Regions from separate parts of the Homo sapiens genome. Here all the other regions are linked to region 2. Evidence: fine-mapped expression QTL. A gene starts in region 2. Each other region holds a variant in brackets. All regions are shown on one strand. Distances are from middle to middle. Region 1 overlaps PMM2 (phosphomannomutase 2). Region 2 holds the start of PMM2 (phosphomannomutase 2). Region 3 overlaps CARHSP1 (calcium regulated heat stable protein 1). Region 4 overlaps CARHSP1 (calcium regulated heat stable protein 1).

Evidence for each region. PIP is the estimated chance that this variant, and not a neighbour inherited with it, causes the effect.
Region 1: its variant is the best candidate, but not a certain one, in a credible set for the expression of PMM2 in lymphoblastoid cells (GTEx, PIP 0.72).
Region 3: its variant is the best candidate, but not a certain one, in a credible set for the expression of PMM2 in blood mononuclear cells (TOPMed, PIP 0.58).
Region 4: its variant is the best candidate, but not a certain one, in a credible set for the expression of PMM2 in whole blood (INTERVAL, PIP 0.69).

What each region holds. Positions count from the first base shown.
Region 1 is chr16:8,826,137-8,831,287 of GRCh38, forward strand. The region is part of intron 7 of PMM2 (phosphomannomutase 2); the gene reads left to right. Among named protein-coding and RNA genes, the nearest start is that of PMM2, 31 kb to the left of the region's middle. RefSeq lists an enhancer at 3,342-3,943. The variant G/A (reference allele first, on the strand shown) is at 3,001.
Region 2 is chr16:8,794,935-8,800,085 of GRCh38, forward strand. It overlaps PMM2 (phosphomannomutase 2), which reads left to right and starts at 2,905. Exons shown (of 8, transcript NM_000303.3): 1 at 2,905-3,014. The coding sequence starts at 2,949. TMEM186 (transmembrane protein 186) reads right to left here and starts at 2,705. Exons shown (of 2, transcript NM_015421.4): 1 at 2,678-2,705; 2 at 246-1,656. The coding sequence starts at 2,680. The coding sequence ends at 1,018. RefSeq lists enhancers at 2,299-2,993, 2,632-2,681, 2,994-3,688 and a silencer at 4,544-4,593.
Region 3 is chr16:8,851,073-8,856,177 of GRCh38, forward strand. CARHSP1 (calcium regulated heat stable protein 1) reads right to left here. Exons shown (of 4, transcript NM_014316.4): 4 at 1,875-4,254. The coding sequence ends at 4,092. LOC100130283 (a long non-coding RNA gene) reads left to right here. Exons shown (of 5, transcript NR_147908.1): 4 at 3,962-4,145. Among named protein-coding and RNA genes, the nearest start is that of CARHSP1, 15 kb to the right of the region's middle. The variant T/C (reference allele first, on the strand shown) is at 2,353.
Region 4 is chr16:8,859,639-8,864,789 of GRCh38, forward strand. The region is part of intron 1 of CARHSP1 (calcium regulated heat stable protein 1); the gene reads right to left. LOC100130283 (a long non-coding RNA gene) reads left to right here. Exons shown (of 5, transcript NR_147908.1): 5 at 490-779. Among named protein-coding and RNA genes, the nearest start is that of CARHSP1, 6.8 kb to the right of the region's middle. RefSeq lists enhancers at 278-992, 4,589-4,748. The variant T/C (reference allele first, on the strand shown) is at 2,613.

The DNA.
Region 1 (5,151 bases), 31 kb after region 2:
AAATAATACCCTTTCGATTTTAGCCAGCTTGCTCACACACAGAGTTGTTCACAAAGTTAATTTTTCACAAACCTACAATTTGCTTAAACTTTCAGTTTTATTTTGTCTTTCAACCAAAAATAATCTTTAAACTCTCTAAATTAGAGAAGATTTTCTCTTTTAAAAAAACCCATATTCCCATGTCTTTAAGCAGTTTTAATTACATACCAAGTGCAGAGCCTAGAATACAGGACAGAACTGCAGATAAAGTCTGACTCTCTCTGGCCTAGCTAGGAGTCATGGCTACCTCCATATGTCCCCAGGCCTTATCTGGAATCTAATGGCTCTAAAGTAGGTAAATTGAACAATTACAAAAGTCACAGAAGCCACTTATGACCTTAAAGCATCCAGCAGAAACAGTATCTGATCTGCCTAATTCAGACCAAATGAAGACAGTTTTATTTCATCAATAATCTTTAAAACTATCTTTATTTACCAAAGATTACTAACGTCATGTGAACTAAAATGCATTAGAGTTGCTATTTCTTTGAAAAAATATTTAAGTGCTTATTTTTTAAGCCAATTAATTACAGCTCTTAAACATCACACACACAACATTATAAATATATAGACCGAAGAAGATGCATTAGTTAAGATTTTTCATTTGCTGATTTTTTAGGGGTTTTTTTTCCCCATTTTACAAATCTTGTCACGACTCACAGAGACCATCTATGCCATGCTTGGACTGTCTGACTTGTCCTATGTGTCCCTCTTTCGTGAATAATCAGTCGTTCTATTTTAGGACAAGAATTTACCATACAAGATCTTTTCTCATATAAATTTCTTTTTTTATAATCATCCTTACCAAAAATACATCTTTATAGCCTCAACTTTTTTCACATATCTCTCTCCCCTACTAAAGTAATTCCTGATGCCCTCAAAAGTGAAAAAGGCCAAGTAATGTGATTCAAAACAGAACAGAGCCTTAGATTTTGAGAGGGGTCTGTCTGCTTACACTTCTTGGGGTTTTATGAGGAAAACAGAGTTTCTCCCAAAACAGGGTCTGTGGAGCCTTCTCTCTTTTTCCCAAGGAGTCCCCAGCTGTCAGAAAGTACCTTAGGTCCTCTCATGTGGGCATTCAGAGTGGCAGGAAGACAGACTGGGGAAATAATTCAGTTGACTGAGAAGAAAGACAAACAAAAACTCATTCCTCGAAGAAAAAAAAAAAATCCAGGAAGAGAAAAAGCACAAAGGCCTTTTTTTTATTTTTTTATTTTTATTTTTATTTTTTTTTGAAATGGAGTCTTGCTCTGTCACCCAGGCTAGATAGAGTGCAATGGCATGATCTAAGCTCACTGCAGCCTCTGCCTCCCGGGTTCAAGTGATTCTCGTGCCTCAGCCTCCCGAGTAGCTGGGACCACAGGCACACGCCACCAGGCCTGGCTAATTTTTGTATTTTTAGTAGAGACAGGGTTTCACTATGTTGGCCAGGCTGGTCTTGAACTCCTGACCTCAAGTGATCCCCCTGCCTCAGCCTCTCAAAGTGCTGGGATTACAGGCATGAGCCACTGCACCCAGCCCACAAAGGCCTTTTAAATGTGTGCATATATATATATATATATATATATATATATATATATATATATGCACACATTTATATATATATATTTATATATATTTATACATATTTATATATTTATATAATATATATTATATATATTGTATAATATATAATATATATGTTATATATTATATATATGTTATATAATATATGATATATATGATATATATTATATATATTATGTTTTATATATAATATATATTTATAAATATATATATTTATAAATTTATATATATATATAAAACTTGGATATCCATTTTTAATTAAGCAGATTTTAACTGTAGAACTCTTTTTTTTTTTTTTTTTTTTTACAAAATCTTTTTAAATTTCTTATTACCAGACTCTAGCCAGGATAGACAGCCAGTATTTCTGGCTTTTGAACTTTACCACAGGTAACCTCCTAGCAAAATTAATAAGTCTTATCTAAGATTATGACTTAACTACAGAAGTATAAGATGTCTCAAAGGGATGGTAAGCAGTTTTTTGTTTTTTTCTTTTACAAGATTTAGAATCTCCCCAAACGTAGTTTAGAGAAAAGAAAATTTAAGGCAGATTTCAAGGCAAGCTGTCCATGGTGGGGAAAGAATCAATAAATGGCACACAAAAAAAACTTACATAAATAACAAACCAGAGAGCACCCATTCCGTAAGCTGGGAACCAGACCCAGGCTACCACTGTGAAATAGCAAAGCTTCAGCTACTGAGCTAAAGCTGAAGGCTGTTACACTGGTCTTCCTGGGAATCCAGGACTTTACTCAAGATAATTCTTAAGGCTAGACATGACACTGTCACATGTCCTCTCAGACCAGCTACCGACATGAACCCAAAAATTCATGCCCTCTGGATGCCGGAGACCAAAAGAGGGTACCCTGACATGGTCCCAAAGTCAAGTTTTTCAGGACGTAAAACAAGAGAAGAGGGAAACCTTATCTGGTTTTTGTTGGAGCAAAGTTTGGAACTGACCAGTCTGCCAGGCTGGATTGAACAGCGGGCTTAGAGGGGTCCTATGTCCACATCCTATTCTGTGGTCCTGCTCTCCATGACAGAGGATGCAGCTGTGAGTGGGTTTGGTTTGCGCTGTATCTCCAGCTACTAAAGCAATGCTTGGCAGGTAGTAGGTGTTCTAGAAAGGTGTGTCGTATTAATGTGTGAATACTGACTCCCCCTCCTAAGTCACTGAGTGAGGAGAGAGGATGTGTGATTCATCTGAGGCATGTGAGAGCTGGTTGTGCCTTTGTCTTTGTTTTTCTTTTTTCTTTTGAGATGGAGTCTCACTCTATTGCCCAGGCTGGAGTGCAGTGGTGCGATCTTAGCTCACTGCAGCCTCCACCCACCGGGTTCCAGTGATTTTCCTGCCTCAGCCTCCAGAGTAGCTGGGGATTTGTATTCACAGCACAGAGT[G/A]CACCAGATTCCCTACAGCCTAAGTCTAGGCTCATAAGATTTTTTCTATTAATCAGACCCTTGCAGAGGAGACAAACAGTGATGTTTTCCATTCATACACGGCGAGAGGGGCCAGAAGCCTGGCTGGTAAGAAATGTTTACCCTTTTTGCCTGCATGTCAGGTTTCTGGGTTCCCATTCTCTGTAGCTTCCAGAAGAACGGAGCAGCTCTTGATGACCCTGATCGCTGCACGCTAGCTGTGGGCGCCAAGTCGCATTGCAAAGGAAAACCATCCGTTTCTGTTTTATGGAACCACAGGCAAAAGCCTCTCAATTTTTCAAGATGCTGCCCAATGGGCTGCATGGGGAACTGAATTAACATTTTCCATCCTGGCCAGAGCAGAGTACACATGACAAAACTAGTCACTATGCTCAGTGCCCAGCATCAACTTGGCAAGGCTCACACTTGCTCCCGTTGGTCTCTGTCATCTTTGATCCACTCCACTCAAGGTGGGAAGGGACGCCTTCCACCGGGAATTCAAAGGATGGTCTCTGAGCCAGATGGAAGAGCGGATGGTCACCCTCGAGGCAGCCCTGTCAAACTTCCGAGCTTCTGCTGACAAGTCCTTCAGGGTTCAGTGAATGTGACCAACCAGACAAACTAGGAGAGCCTGATGGACTTCCTTCAGCAATTCCCTTAGACATCTCCTCCACATATACAAACACATACAGCAAAACACCTTCCAGAAAGAGTTTCCAGACTAAATCACAAACCAAGAGTATTCCTCCAAACAAGTCCCCTATTCTCTGTACAATTAGGGCAGATACCCCATGCTGGGGCTACAAACAGATACCACCTAATAGAGCTAGAGATGCCCCATGATGGGGCTACAGGCAGACACCCAATGATGGGGCTACAGACAGATACCCTGTGATGGGGCTACAGTTACAGGACGTCTCCCCAGGACTGTTTATTGCAGTTAAATCCATACACCATGGGTTGGCAGCACCCCATTAGTAGAGATGGTGCCAGTGTCAGCCCCCAGTCGAAGAGAACTAGGTGGCCGCCTGGGCTGGCCTCTGGATCCATCACCAGTGAGGGGGGTTGGGGAGGCTACTGAATCGCTGGAAGATAGCCACAAGGGAGATCACAGATGAGCCCCCAAATTTGTAACCCCCTCCACAGGTTCTCCTTGCCCACAGCCTAGACAGCCAATTTATCAAGACAGGAGAATTGCAATAGACTAATTCACACAGAGCCAGCTGTGCAGGAGACTGGAGTTTTATTATTACTCAAATCAGTCTCCAAGAATTTGGGGATTTGAGTTTTTAAGGATAACTTGGTGGGTAGGGGCTCTGGAGGTGTGGATTGCTGATTGGTCAGCATGGAGATGAAATCATAGGGGGTAGAAGTGAGTTTTTCTTGCTGTCTTCTGTCCTTGGGTGGGATCAAAGTGCCGGTTGAATCATATTACCTGTCTGGGTGGCGTCAACTGCTGCATTGGAAGGCAGGGTCTGCAAAATACCTCAAGCACTGATCTTAGGATTTACAAGCGATGTTATTCTCAGGAGCAATGTGGGGAGGTTCAGACTCTTGCAGCCAGAGGCTCCGTGGCTCCAAAACCATAATTTCTAATCTTGTAACTAATTTGTTAGTCCTACAAAGGCAGACTGGTCCCCAGGCAAGAAGGGGGTTTATTTCAGGAAAGAGCTGTTATCCTTTGTTTCAAAGTTGAACTATAGGCCGGGCAGGGTGGCTCACGCCTGTAATCCCAGCACTTTGAGAGGCTGAGGCAGGCCGATCACTTGAGGCCGGGAGTTTGACACCAGCCTGGTCAACAGGGTGAAACCCCGCCTCTACTAAAAGTACAAAAATTAGCCAGGTGTGGTGGTGCACACCTGTAATCCCAGCTACTCGGGAGGCTGAGGCAGGAGAATCACTTGAACCTGGGAGGCAGAGATTCCAGTGAGCCGAGAGTGTGCCACTGCACTCCACCTTGGTGACAGAGTGAGACTCCGTCTCCAAAAACAAAAAAAACAAAGTTGAACTATAAACTGAATTCCTCCCAAGGTTAGTTCAGCCTGTGCCCTGGAATGAACAAGGACAGCTTGGAGGTTAGAAGCAAGATGGAGTCAGGCCAGATCTCTTTCACTGTTAACATTTTCTCAGTTA
Region 2 (5,151 bases):
CGAGGATGGCCTCGATCTCCTGACCTCGTGATCCGCCACCTTGACCTCCCAACGTGCTGGGATTACAGGTGTGAGCCACCGCCCCCAGCGATAAAACATTCTTATTGACTTTCGAGTGGCAAAATAATAAAGATCATGCCTTCCTTCCTCTTTACTGTGTTACAAATTGTATAATGAACATATATTATTAATTATGTGGGGCAATGTATATAACTGGCTTAAGTTTATAAAATAACGTACCAGCATCCGGTGCATTTGGCTTTATTACACTGCAGGGCCATCCAAAGCAAGAGCCTCTAGACCTCTGGGTGGTGAACAAATCTCAACTGGGGTTTCGTGCCTACCTGGACGACATCTGCTCGTCAATGTGTAGTTAACATCCTGACAGACCCTTCTGCCGCTGGATATGTGAGGGGCACAGCACAGGGCTCTGGAAGTCCCTGCTGACTGCTCGAAGCCTTTCTCCCTGCTAAAACCTCTGACCAAATGCTTAATAATATCTGCTGTAGGCTGTTGAGTCTGCCACACGTTTGACATTTATTGTTTATTCCCACACCCATCCCATGAAACAAGCAGGACTTTCCATTTTACAGATGTGAAAACCAAGATTCAAAGAGACTCAATAACCTGCTCCAGGACAAATGACAGAACTGAGACTTCTGACTCCAAATCTTACGCTCCCCCGCCACACCTCTTTGCCTTTCTCTTTCACACCAATGGACTCTATGGGTGACCTTGGCATAGGTTCTTCTAAGAACTGGCTCTTAACAAAAACTTCTGGCCATTATCTGACTGAATGTCACAAACAAGTGCTGTAAGAACTTGCTTAGAGCCTTTTTCCTAAACCTGTACACCAGCTCTTGCCTTGTGAATTTATTCACCACAAAACACATGTTCCCAGGGGCCCAGGCAAAGTCTCCAAGTACCCAGTCCCCTTTCTTCAGCCTTGCCCACACCCTCAGCCTTCCTGTTAATCCAGGCGACCCAGGGTTACCCAGAGGTCCAGGTCCCAGTTGTTCACTTGAGCATCTGATGTACCCCAAACACCTGTGTGAAACGCTCTCTGTCCAGGATGCGTCCATAGCGCAGGGTGACGTAGAAGGTCTGTTTCCCACTGTACCGCTGGATACGCACAAACATCTCCTGAGGCCGGTCCTTGGTTTCTGTCAGGGGAATCACATCTGCCATGGGACAGTATGTGTCCTGCCGCCAGCCCCAGAAGTTCAGATGGGCCACCCGCAGCATGGTGCCAGACTCATTCAGATACAGGATACCAACCAGTCTCCGTAAGAAATAGCTCATCCAGCACAGCATGGTCAGGGCAAAGCCCGATATCCCACTCATGAGGCACACGGTGTTGAGAGTGAGGAGGCCCTGGGAGTACAAGTAATAGCCTGGTGGCAAAGCTACCACTGTCAGGGCAGTCTGTGCCAACTTCAGTCGTGACAGGAACCCGAAGGTTCTGATGGCATCAAAACGGTAAAACATCCAGAATTTCTCAGTCTCTGCGTTTGGTAGTTTCTCCTTCGAGATGGGTGAACTGCTGCCCACCCACCTCTTAGGATCCTCCTGCCCACTGCAGCACCACAGCCCATGGAGAGGCCTTTCCCACACAGCTTTTCCCCGAAACCTACGCACAGCTCGGAGAAGGGCAGCCTGAAAGGGAGACAGTAGACCATTTCTCTCATGGAACTCAACCACATTAATCACACGGTGAACATCTGCAAAGCACCATACTCTAAGGCTTCTGCCAATCCTGCAAGGTAACCGTTATTGCCAGACGAGGGAAGGGTAAAGCCAGATGCTATCTCATGTGGGCATCACAACAGCTATCTAAGATAGTTATCACTATTTCCACTTTACCACTAGGGAAACTAAGCCCAGAGAGGGTAAGATATTTACCAAAGATCACACAGTCAGTGAGTGCAGCAGAGTCCTCCTTCCACCAGGCAATTCCAAATAAATACAGGAAAGGAGGTGCGGCCGTCATTAATTCAAAACATATCCAGGGAGGACAAACTCTGGGCTGGACAATGTATCCACAAGGGGGTGTGAACATTTCCCCAAGCAGGAAACTAAATAATCAGTGTCTTAGTGGGGAACTCGAGCAACAAATCTGTGAGATATTTATTCCAATAAACTTTCTAATTCTCTGTTTGATTCATATGCTATCTTGGGTGCTGGAGGGAACTGCTGCTTTCTCTTAGCCTAGTCTGGGGAAGGGGAAACAGCGGAGAAGGAGAAGGAGCGAGGCAGGGAGGCCCCAACACGTAGCACAAGGGTATTACTAGGTGGGTAGTGAAGCAGTAAAAGCTCTTATTCCAATTCTGGCTCCAACAGTAATTTGTGAGCAAATTACTCCACACCCCTGAGATTCGGTTTCTTCGCCTTTCAAAATGGGGACTCAGAACACAGTGAACCAGAGGATGGTTTCAGAGTCCTCAACTTAGTACCTAATGCACTGTGAGAGCTCGGCGAGTTTTAGCTACTACTACTGTGCGCATGTGACCCAAGGAGGGCAAGAGAAAGCCCGGGAAAAGCGAACTGTAACACACGCCAGAGCTTCCTCCCACGGATCCTCGGAGTCCGAAACCCGAGCGTCGGGCCTGCCCGCCCCAGCCCTGACCCCGACCCCAAAGAGCATCACCCCCTCAAGGCTCGCCACCCGCCTCCTTACCATGGCCCCACCACCTGCTGCCGGAAGTAAATCCCACCGGCCCCCGGAACCCCTAAGAGCGCATGCTCGAATGTACAAGGCGGGCGTGATCTGCGTTGCACCCTGGGAGTTGCGGTCCAGGAATCGTGGCTGCCGCTACTCCCAGGCGTTATGGGAACGGAGTCCCCTCCTCTTCCCGACGTGCCCTGCGACTCAGCGGCCGAACCCGGAAGTTCCGGGCCGAGTTCCTCGTGCCAACGTGTCTTGTAAGGTGCGGCTAGAAACTGGGGACATGGCAGCGCCTGGCCCAGCGCTCTGCCTCTTCGACGTGGATGGGACCCTCACCGCCCCGCGGCAGGTAAGTGGCGGCCGGCGGGCTGCTGGCAGCCGACGCGGAGCCCGTGCTGTTCCCAGTTGGGGCTATCGACCACCCAGGGTAGGCGCCAAGGGGTGGCTAAGGACCGCCTACGTCCTCACGGCGCTGAACCCTATTCTGGGTGCACTGGAGGAATGAGAGGGAGGCCCTAACCAGCTCTTGAAGAGCTCTGGTGCTTGGAAAGATGAGACGGGGCTGAAGAACTCTTAAGAGCAGGAAACTTGTGCTAGGTTGGAAAATGTAATCTGGACTCACCGCTAGTGCTCGGGACTGATAGACCAGGATTTCAACCCAAGATCAGGCCCCCTTATCAGCTATGTGTCGGCCCCAATCCTGTAACCAATGGGCTGTGCCGTGAGTCATGATATTAAAAACAGGTTTCCAGGTCAAACCGACCTAGTGGAGTCTCATCTTCACCTCTTGACATCTGTGTGACCTTCAGCGAGTCATTAACCTCTCTGAGCCTCAACATCTACAGCTTTAAATGGGGATGTTACCTGTTCCATATGGTGTCTGTGAGGATCAAATGAGATTGTGTAAGTTCTTGAAAGTATGTTGGACACAACACACTAGGCCTCAGTAAATAGTAGCCACCTCCACCACACCCATCTCCAGCCCCTGCAATGGACTAGGGAGATGGAGGAGCCCTAGGTTATTACAGGCTGCCCGCTGAGAGCCTCTTTGGGCCCTTGGAAACTTGCTTTCCACTTTCAGATTTTGCTGCTACAGGCACAGATAAGTTTCAGTTACGATCAGCCTTGAGGTGAGGCTCTCCTGGCCCCTTTTCAGAAATTGGCCACTGAACACTGGCCATTTCAACTTGAGACTGGACCCCAATGGTCTCACTATCCTCAGCTTCTACCCTCACCCCTCATAGTTTTCGCTTGGTGGTAACAATGGTGTGCTCCAGAAGTCCAGGTCAAATGCGTGTGACCTTAGACGTATCATTTTGCCCTTCTCAGCCACAGGTTTGATTTACCTAGTGATGACGCTCAACTCCCAAGTTCTTCAAAGGCTTTTTCTGATTCTGAAATTCAGTGATCACACACTTGGGTTTGTTAAAAGCCCATAGTGGTCTAAAACTCCGGTCCCCAATTCATTTTTTGTAAAGGGCCATATAGCAAATACTTCTCTGTCTTTGCTGACTATGTGGTCTATAGTAACCACTCAACTTTAGTGCAAAACCAGCCATAAACCCTATATAAATAAGAGTGGCTGTGTACCAATAAAATTTTATTTATTTATTACAAAAACAAACAGCTGCCCAATGTGGTCTGTGGGCCATAGTGGTCTAGGGTTTACATTGCCACCCTTTTTCATATCACTGAACCCTCTCAACCTTCCTCCATCTTTCTTCCCAGGTAGGATAGTTGTTATTACCGTTTTAAACATAAGGAAACACACTCAGTGAAGAACTAACCTCCTCAGTTTCACACAGCCAACCTGGTACAAGTCTCTGGGCCTCAGGATATTGGTTCCTGTCAAGTTTGCCATTTCCTATCTGTGCTAAGGTGGAAGCTGTTCTAGTCACTGGGTATGCCATTCAGGAAAGTGCTTCTGATTTTCTGATTTTCACAGTTCTGACTCTTTTTTTTTTTTTAAGACAGAGTCTCACTCTGTCACCAGACTGGAGTGTAGTGGCCCAATCTCAGTTCACTGCAACCTCCACCTCCCAGGTTCAAGCAATTCTCCTGCCTCAGGCAACCAAGTAGCTGGTGCTACAGGCAGGCACCACCACGCCTGGCTAATTTTTGTATTTTTAGTAGAGATGGGGTTTCACTGTGTTGGCCAGGATGGTCTCTATCTCTGGACCTCGTGATCCACCCGCCTCGGCCTCCCAAAGTGCTGGGATTACAGGCGTGAGCCACCGTGTTCTGACTTTTAAAGGCCACTCCTCCAATTCTAGATTCTGTCTAATAGGTCCAGATTCCACTGTGAGAGTAGAAAAGATTGCACTCTATTACAAACCCTTCTGTACAATTTTAATCACATTCATGTATTACTCTAAAAAAGTTTTTTAAAGAAAAATCATTGAACTCCAAGTGTTTATATACTGAGGTTGAATTAAATGGTTTTTTGTATTTTCTAAATTTCTAGTAAAAAGATATTCAGCCGGGCA
Region 3 (5,105 bases), 56 kb after region 2:
AGACGGGGTTTCACCATGTTGGCCAGGCTGGCCTTGAACTCCTGACCTCAGGTGATCCACCTGCCTTGGCCTCTCAAAGTACTGGGATTACAGGCATGGGCATGAGTCACCATGCCCGGCCTTTTTTTTTGTTTTTGAGACAGAGTCTCACTCTGTTATCCAGGCTGGGGTGCAGTGGCACAATCTTGGCTCGCTGCAACCTCTGCCTCCAGGTTCAAGTGATTTTCCTGCCTCAGCCTCCCAAGTAACTGGGATTACTGGTATGCACCACCACGTGCAGCTAATTTTTGTATTTTTAGTAGAAACGGGGTTTCACTATGTTGCCTAGGCTGGTCTTGAACTCCTGACCTCAAGTGATCTGCCCACCTCGGTTACCAAAGTGCTGAAATTACAGGCGTGAGCTACCACGCCCGCTCCCCACCTTCAGCTTTTGCCAAACCCTTCCTTGGCTACCCATGTAGTACTCCATATAGTAAGTAAGTCAGCAAATCTCATTGTTTTGAGCTAAGTGCCTACGTTAGGCTCTCCCTAAACAGGTTTGATGGGCTGGTTTTTTCCCAATATGCTTTGGAAATCATTGTATAATACTGACAAGAAAAGTGTCCATCTCTGCACCACCCAAAATCACTGCCTCCCTTGGGAGACACCGGCCAGAGCAAAGCCTTCCCAACAGAGCACAGCGACCCCATAGAGTGGCCCCTGCCTGTCACTGCTCTCCTGGAAACCAAGAACAGGAGTTCTTACACCTGCCCACCTTCTGCCCTCACTCCCACTGCCCCAACAGCAAACCCTTCCTCCCCTGCTATGGACCTTGAAAAGCTCTCCGTCCTAGGACTCTGCCAGCCCCGGGCCCTCAAGCCTCATCTGCTTCCAGCCCCTGACTTCATGCCTGAAGAGCAGCAAGCTTTTTTTTTTTTTTTTTTTTTTTTTTTTGAGACTGGGTGTCACTGTCACCCAGGCTGGAGTGCAGTGGTGCATTCACAGCTCATTGCAGCCTTCACTTCCTGGGCTCCAGCAATCCTCCCACTTCAGCCTCTGGAGTAACTGGGACCACAGGCTCATGCCACCATGCCCAGCTAATTGTATTTTTGGTAGAGACCATGTTTCGCCATGATGCCCAGCTGGTCTCAAACCCCTGAGCTCAAGCCATCCACCTACCTCGGCCTCTCAAAATGCTGGGATTACAGGCGTGAGCCACTGTGCCCAGCCCTAGCAAACGTTCATCAAATGTCTATAGCAGTGGCCGGGTGCTGTGGCTCACACCTCTGGTCCCAGCACTGTGGGAGGCTGAGGCAGGAGGATGGTCTGAGTACAGGACTTCGAGACCAACTTGGGCAATGTAGCAAGTTGCTCTCTACAAAAAATTTAAAAATTAGCCAGGCATGGTGGCATATGCCTATAGTCCCAGCTACTCAGGTGGCTGAAGGAGGATCACTTGAGCCCACAAGGTTAAGGCTGCAGGGCAACAAAGCGAGACCTTGTCTCAAAAACACAAACAAAAAACACTTCTATAGCAGGAATGAGCCAGGGACTGTGGACAGTGTGCCCCGAGGCCCGTCCTCTCTTCCCACAGCTGATGGGGATGAGGTGTAACTCACACATCCTAAAAGCTTCAACAGGGCACTGGAGCGCCGCTGACCAAGTTACTGGCATTTTCTATTGCCAGGAAGCCGCATTCTCCTCTCTGCTAAGCTTTCTCATGCTAGAGAATGATGACTAAAAAACAGATGATCCCATCTTCTTATTCACCATCCCCTAAAAAAAACAGACTGCCACGTGGAATGTGTCAGCCTCACCTGGGGGAGACACCCTTATCTGACGACTTAAAAGGAAAAACTTGGTGAGCCAGCCTCCACACAAACACACGCATAGCCTTGCACAAAACAAAAATTTATTGGGAGAAAGATGGCTGATGGGAGGCAAGATCTGGATTCAGGAATCCTCAATTTTAGCTCTCGCTCTGTCACCAAAACCCTCCGTCCCTCCCAGAGCCTCGAGGAGTTTCCCCTTGTGTAAACCGGTATCGCGTCCCTTCCAGCTCTGACATCCTGCGGTTCTAGAATACCCATTGATTGAAAGAGCTGTGGCCAAACAGGAAGGACAGAGTAAGAGCCGCTGACAAAGGATTCTGCCAAGACAGAATCCCAGGGTCACAGGAGAGAGGCTTGGGGCAGTGAAAGCCCTCTCGGGTCTTGGCTGTGGAAGTGTGGACTGTACCAGCAGATGGGCCCTTGGGAAGCCAACAGGGAACAATTCAAGGCTGGAGAGAAAAGGCCACCTTTGACCCAGCAGAAGGCAGAGGCGGGAGAGGAGGGTGAGGATGTACAAGGAGCATCGCAGGCGAGGAAACAA[T/C]GGCCAGGACCTAACTGTGGTGGGAACTGCCTTTGTCTCCACACACTCGCAATCAACATGCGTATTTGCTATTCTCAAACAACTCCCTTCCACCCCCTTAGGCTGAAAGGACAAACTCATCAGAGTTGAGGAGTACCTACCTGATGAAGCTGTTCATGCTTCCAGCATCAAACTGGACGTTTACTGTCTGCCCAAAAGCCAGTTTCCAAAAGGTTTGCTTGCCTCTGTTCAGTGGATTCTTGACTACATATAGGTCATATATTTCAAAAAATAATGCCTAGCTATTTCTACTTTGAAATCATGACTAAAGCCAAACCACAACCACAGCAAAGATAACCTAAGGATTTGTTTACCAGAAATACCTACAAAAAAGTTTGCAGGCCGGGCGCGATGGCTCACACTTGTAATCCCAGCACTTTGAGAGGCCGAGATGGGCAGATCATCTGAGGTCAGGGGTTCAAGACCATCCTGCCCAACATGATGAAACCTGGTCTCTACTAAAAATACAAAAATTAACCGGGTGTGGTGGCGCATGCCTGTAATCCCAGCTACTCAGGAGACTGAGGCGGAATTGCCAGAACCCTGGAGGGCAGAGGTTGCAGTAAGCTGAGATCGGGCCACTGCACTCCAGCCTGGGTGACAGAATGAGACTCAGTCTCCCACCCTGCCAAAAAGTTTGCAATGTCGGCAGCAAAGTGCAAACAGAGCCGGCTCTGGGTGAAAGCTTTAGTTATGAAAAATAAGAAAAAAAAAATCCCTAAGCATTTCTTAACACTAGTTTTAAAGAAAACCCCCTCTCCAAAGGTATGTTTCTCCTTCAACTTTCTTGACTTTGCCAGGCTGTCAGGATGCAAGCTACCTACTCTTTTCTGGATGGATCGGGACAAAGTTTTTAAACAAAGACTGTGTCCTCTCCACAAGCCCTTCCCACCACCACCACCCCAGCCCCCCGCCGCCATAATTACAGGGGCTGTGAAATGGCTGTTGAGTGATGGTCACACAACCAGAAGGCAGATGAAAAGGTCAGGCTCTAAGAGGGGTTCAGCCTCCCAGTACCAGCCTGCTGTGCCCAGGGGTGGGAGTGCTGGGAGAACTGTCTTCCCCAGACAGGCAGCTATGCCGCCTCCCACTGCAAAGGCACCAAAAGGCAACATCCGTCCAATCCAAAGACCGCCACCCCCGCCTTTCCCCACCCACTTCAAGCCAGCTCCCCTAGAACCAACCAAGCCAAGAATTAGAAAACTGCTTTGCCCAGGCCCCAGGAGAGGCGCAAGGGGCACTTAGGTGGAAATTTGCCTTGGAGAAGTCACGCAAGGTCCCTGTCAGGCTGCCAGGGGGCCAGATCTGGGAATCTGGGGCCTCCAGCTCCAGGAGGAAGAGGGATTCTGTGGGTTGAGCCCATGTGTCTGAGCAGCTGGAGAAATACCACCCTTGATCCACTCCCTGGGATGGGGTTGGAACCTCCACTCAGCCACCAGTGGGCACCTCTCCTTTTTAAATGCTTTTAATGCTCTTCAGATGGTGAGAGGTTGTTGCAATGGTCATAGGCTGTGCTGATGGCCGGGAACACCCCACACCCCACACCTGCCCCCCATACCCCTTCCTCCAGGAGATACTTGAGAGGGACCATGCCCGGCTGAAGCCCCGTCTCGTGTGGAAGAATGTCATCTCCAGTGTCTGCTGCCTCCTCCCTGCAAAGTCTCCCACAAGCACAGGACAAGGGGTGCTTCCACCATCTCCTAGGAGCTGATGACATGTCCAGACCAGGTCTCATGCTTGGTGCCTGGTGCCAGGTGAGTGATGACGACCTCCACGGCCTGCAGCTTCTCATTCTTGGGTGGGATGGAGCACATTTTATAGGTGACCTCGTCGCCTTCCACTGGGACATACTCCCCTTCCACACTACGGGGGCATAAATAAAGCAGTCAGGGCTCACACCGGGACACAGCTCCCTTCCCCAAGACACCAGCCACCCTTCTGGTCACACAGCCACCAAAGCAGGCACCATCTGACCAACCACCGGGAACCTCTTTCCAAAGAACTGCCCCTCCACCAGAGGGAGCTGCCACACTGCCCCCAGCCTCTGTCCTAGGCAAGGAGGCCCTGGCCCAATCAGCTCCTTCCCTGGGACTTTTGATGCTGGAACTGAAAGAGTTCAGCCACCTGTGGGTGCTCACATGGTGACATGAAATGTGGGAGGGAGCCTGGGCTTGTGACTGAAGAGTAAAGACAGCCAGTCCAAGCCAGAGAGCCAGAGAGAAACAAGGCCATCATGGAGTGAGAATCCGAGTTGAGGGGTGGCCTGGGCAGGGCTTTCCTGAGGTCCTCAGCACTGCAGCCCCTGGTTCCAGGAGTCTCAGAAACCGCACCGTGTCTTTGTTCTCAAATTCCCCAGTTTCCCAGCCTGCCTTTTTTTGAGACAGAGTCTTGTTCTGTTGCCCAGGCTGGAGTGCAGTGGTGTGATCTCAGCTTACTGCATCCACCTCCCGAGTTCAAGTGATTCTCCTGCCTCAGCCAAGTATCTGGGACTATAGGCACCACAGCCAGCTAATTTTTGTATTTTTAGCAAAGTCAGGGTTTCACCATGTTAGCCAGGCTGGTCTCAAACTCCTGACCTTAAGTGAGCCACCTGCCTCAGCCTCCGAAAGTGCTGGGATTACAAGCGTGAGCCACCACGCCTGGACTCCCGGTGAGCCTTCAAGAAGGTCCCTTTGGTGCATGAAGCTAGTTCCTGGAGGGGCCTCTCCCTGTGA
Region 4 (5,151 bases), 65 kb after region 2:
GACACATAGTATTTGTGGGAGGGAAGGAGGAAGGTGAGCAGAAAACCCAAAGCCAGGGGCCGGGCGCAGTGGCTCACACCTGCAATCCCAGCACTCTGGGAGGCCGAGGCAGGCGGATCACTTAATGTCAGGAGTTCGAGACTAGCCTGGCCAACATGGGGAAACCCAGTCTCTAATACGAATACAAAAATTAGCTGGGCATGGTGGCAGGCACCTGTAATCCCATCTACTTGAAGGCTGAGGCATGAGAATTGCTTGAACCTGGGAGGCGGAGGTTCCAGTGAGCTGAGATCGCACCACTGCACTCCAGCCTGGGCTACAGAGCAAGACTCTGTCTCAAAAAAGAAAACCCAAAGCCAGGGAGATTTTAATGCCAACCACCTAGATCCAAACTCAGCCACTCCACGGACCCTCCCTGACGCTGCTGGGAGCCAGACACCACAGGGAAGCAGGGGCAAAAACTGACCCTCACGCAGTGTCCGCCTCCAGGGAACTGTGGAACACGTCGCAGAGAGCTCAAGCGCCACGTTTGGATCCCTGAGCAGCTGTCACAAGCCTGCACCCAGGACTGGGGGGCCTGCTGCGAGAGCCCAAAGGGAAAGGGAGAATTTCCAAGGCTGCATCCAGCTCCATCAGGCCCAGTGAATTTCCACACAGCCCGGGTCACCACGCTGTTATGAAATCAAATTCCTTCTGTGACCCCTAGTATGTACCGGTAAATCCAGCTGGAGGGCGGGAATTCCCTAGCTGCTGCTGTGCTTTTGACAATTTTTCAAGAGCAGGACACTCGCTGTACACAATAATCACTGAACATTGAATATGAAGGTGTCGGCTCTAACGTGGCCTCAGCTCGAGGTTCAGGGGAAAGAGAAACAGTCCAGCAGTCAGAGGCCCTTGGGTAAGTCCTTTCCCATCTCTGGGCTCAGTTTCCGAATCTGCAAAGTGGGGCAGCTGGGTGGGCATCACTTGGCACCTGCGCAGGGCTGGTGATGGGGGTACGAGATGAAGTAGGGAGAAGCCTAACTAACTCAGGACGCCACTCAACACCACACAGCCGGGAGGGACAGCAGCAGCCCTGGATCGGTTTGACTCAGGTCCCATGGGGTTTTCAAATTTAGATTTGAAGCATGGGCCAGGTGCGGTGGCTCACACCTGTAATCCCAGCACTTTGAGAGGCAGAGGCAGGTGGATCACCTGAGGTCAGGAGTTGGAGACCAGCCTGGCCAACATGGTGAAAACCAGTCTCTACTAAAAATACAAAATTAGCTGGGCGTGGTGGTGGGTGCCTGTAATCCCAGCTACTCGGGAGGCCAAAGCTGGAGAATTGCTTGAACCAGGGAGCTGTGGGTTGCAATGAGCCGAGATCACACCACAGCACTCCAGCCTGGGTGACAGAGTGAGACTCCGTCTCAAAAAAAAATAAATAACTTTTATTTTTTTGAGACAGTGTCTCACTGTCACCCAGGCTGGAGGGCAGTGGCATAATCACAGTTCACTGTAGCCTTGACCTCCATGCCTAATTTTTTTTTTTTTTTTTTTTTTTTTTTTTTTTTTTTTTTTTATAGAGACAGGGTATCACTATGTTGCCCAGGCTGATCTCAAACTCCTGGGCTCAACGGATTCTCCCACCTCTTCCTCTCAAAGTGCTAGGATTACAGGCATGAACCACCATGCCCGGCCTGAACTATCTTAAACATCCCAGGGGGTTTCCTCAAAATCCAGGTTTCCAGCTGCTCATGGAAAGAAATGAAGCTCTCACAACCTTCAACCTCAGTTTGCCCCCCCAGTCCCCTCATTTATAGGAGTCTTCAACCTACATCACCCAAAAATCCCACCGCACCCCCCGAACCGCCTTCAAGCATAGCCACCCAAGAACCAGGCCCGACTGCTCAGAGGAGAAGGGATGCCCCATCCCTGAAATGTCAGAACCCCTCCCCAGACATTGCTGCACTCTCCCGTTGGGCCTCAGTTCTGTCGGGCTGGGAAGCTGGTGGCTGGCTTGCCTTCTGGAGGAGGTGGCATCCTACCTCCTGTCCCTTCTCTCAGCTACAGCCGCGGCCAAGGAGGAACTCCTGAGTCCGGGGAGCCCCCACCTCAAAAAGGCCCCAGCTGCTGGCCTGGGGGCCAGGGCCCCCGCATGACCTACCAGCACAGGTCATAGAGTCCTAGAATGTTCAACGCCCAGAGTTCCAGGAAAGAGGCTGGCCCTGGGAGGGGAGGGCCCTGTCCAGGCCTCCCAGGACAGCAGATGGGAGCAGTGGCCTCGCAACTCCACAGTTAGAGACACTGCCCTGCCTTGTTCTATCCAAAGTCTCCCTCCCTCCTTTCTCCTGGAGTCAAGCATAGCTGACTTTTTTTTTTTTTTTTTTTTTTTTTTTTAATTTGAGATGGAGTCCTGCTGTCGCCCAGGCTGGAGTGCAATGGCACAATCTCGGCTCACTGCAACCTCCACCTTCTGGGTTCAAGTGATTCTCCTGCCTCAGCCTCCCAAGTAGCAGGGGTTACAGGTGCCCGCCATCACGCCCGGCTAATGAAGCATAGCTGACTTCTAATCCTACCCCTTGCCTGCTGTGTGGTCTTGTACAAGTTACTTAATCTCTCTGGGCCTCAGT[T/C]TCCACATCTGGAAAATGGGAATTATAATAGTCCCGATTTCACACCATCAGGCTGAACTGAAAACAAAATAATACACACTAAGCACTGGGCACACTGTCCGCCCAGGTCCAGTGAGCAGTAATTGTCAGCTACGACTGTTGTTATAATTGTCATCATAAAGGCACTCAACAGACACGTGCCCAATACCGAGCCCTGTTCAAGGCCCCAGAGACAAAGGGCTGAACTTGAAGCCAGAGAATAAACAGTTAAATAAACATAAACCAGATCATTACAGATCCCAAAAGGGCTGTAAAGAAACAGACAGAAGGGGATAGGGGGAGAAGGGTGGGAATACACACGCTAATCAGGGTGCCTGCAGGACCCTGAACAGCAAGAAAGGGGTAGCCATTTGCAAAACGGAGGGAGGCTGTTCCAGGTATAGGGAACAGCCTGTGCAAAGGCCCTGAGGGCCCGGGTGGGACTGAGGCCAGTGGGGAAACCATGTGATGGGTGGGGGACTAGGAATGGGAGGCAGGAAAGGCGGTGGAAAGGGTAGGGCCCGCTCAGGAATCATGCCGCGTCATCATCATCATCACTGTCATTGTCACCATCGTCGTCCTCCTTGCATCTTCCATTTGTCACACCCATTTTCCCCTGGGTGAATGGCACAGACCCAAAATGGGGGCCCCCTTCTTTCTCCACCCAAGCCCCCTCAACACCCCAAGTGCACCCAATCCTTCAGAGATGCCACTGGAAGCTCATGGCCTGTAGGGGTGAGGAGTCTGAGGGCAGCACAGGGCCCCTCTGTGTCCCAAGGGCCCAGCACAGGCACTGGCACAGAGCAGGGTCTCCAGACGGTCCAGGAATGGCCACAAGGATGGCTTTTTTTTTTTTTTTTTTTTTTTTTCAGATAGGATCTCACTTGGTCACCTAGGCTGGAATGCAGTGGCGCGATCATGGCTCACTGAAGCCTCTCAACCTCCTGGGCTCAGGTGATCCGCCCACCCCAGCCTCCTGGGTTGTGGGACTACGGCCACGTGCCACCACAACCAGCTCATTTTTTGTAGAGACAGGGTTTCAATATGTTGCCCAGGCTGGTCTTAAACTCCTGGGCTCAAGCGATCGGCGCACCTTGGCTTCCCAAAGTGCTGGGATTACAGGCGTGAGCCACCACACCCAGCTTCCAAGCCTCATTCTTTGCCAGCATTAGGACCCAAAGCCCCAGCTGGCTGCCACTGCATTGGTGTGCACTCAGCACCATGCCCAGCCCAGCAGGAGGTGGCTACATTCCTGCTCACCTGATAGTGGAAGAAACTGAGGCACGGAGCAGACGTGACTAGGGGCGGGGGCAGTGCCAACTGGGAGACCCAGGAGCTTTATCCAGCCTCTCATGGCCCATCTGGGCTGAAGCCAAGCTGGGGTGGCCAGAGTAGGCCTGGCCAAGGGCCACTCACTCCCCAGTAGGCCCAGCAGAGAGGAGTGAATGGCCTCAGTGCGGGGGAGGGCCGGGCAAAGTCCAGCTGGAAAGAAAACAACTGGGGGGCGGGTAACCAGGCACCCAGAAGCCAGCTCTGAGGCCCTGGCCAGCCTCTGCTGTGTCCCCTCCACAATACACACATACACAAGGATGGGGCCACACAGCAGCCCCGCCCACCAGCACAGTCCCAGCTTCCAGCCAGCCACTGCTCTCCCAGCAATACCAGGCATGGCCTTGGAGTGTCCCCAGCAGAAGACAGGGCCTGCCCTCTGTGACTAGCCTTCAGCTCCCCACAGCTGGGGGAGGGAGGAAGGCTGCAAACAGATCCGCCACTCAGATGAGCTTCTGGCCTGCAACAAACTTCGACCAAATGTCACGACCAAGGTGTCATGACTGCCAGGCTGCATGTACATGTGTGCTCGTTTGTGCACAGGTATGTAGGTGTATGCACATGTGTATGTGTGTGCTGTGTATATACGCATGTGTACACATACATATGTGCCCACACATGGCTGTCTCTGCATCTGAGCGCATACACGTGTATGCATGCGTGAACTTGTTGCCGTCTGTATGCACACGTCCATGGAGCGGGGAGCCTCACCTCACCGCACAGCACGCTGGGCACCTGTGCTGCCACAGGGGACCTTGATGAACTCTGCCACTTCCTATTGAACCAACAGATAAGGGAGTGGGACAGACCATGACTACCACCACCACAGCAGTGTCCTGGGGCCATTCTGCTTACTACTTTACAACACTTCACACAGCCCAGCTCATTCTATCCCCATTTCACTAATGGGAGAACGGAGACACAAAGAGTCAAGTAACTTGCCCAGGGTCGCCCGGCTAACAAAGACCCTGGTGAAATACGGAGTAAGTCAGACAGCAGAAATGCTACGGAGAAAAAGCCAGCAGGGTAAGGGGGAGAGGCTGCACCAGGAGGTGCCCAGCTGGCCATGCACCCCCTTCCCCAGTCAGCCCCCAGGCTCTGATGAGTGCCCGGCCAAGGGAGGGAGCCCAGGGTGGTGGGGGCAGGAAGCCACGCCCACCCTGACTGCCCCAGGGATGGGTGTGTCGGCTGG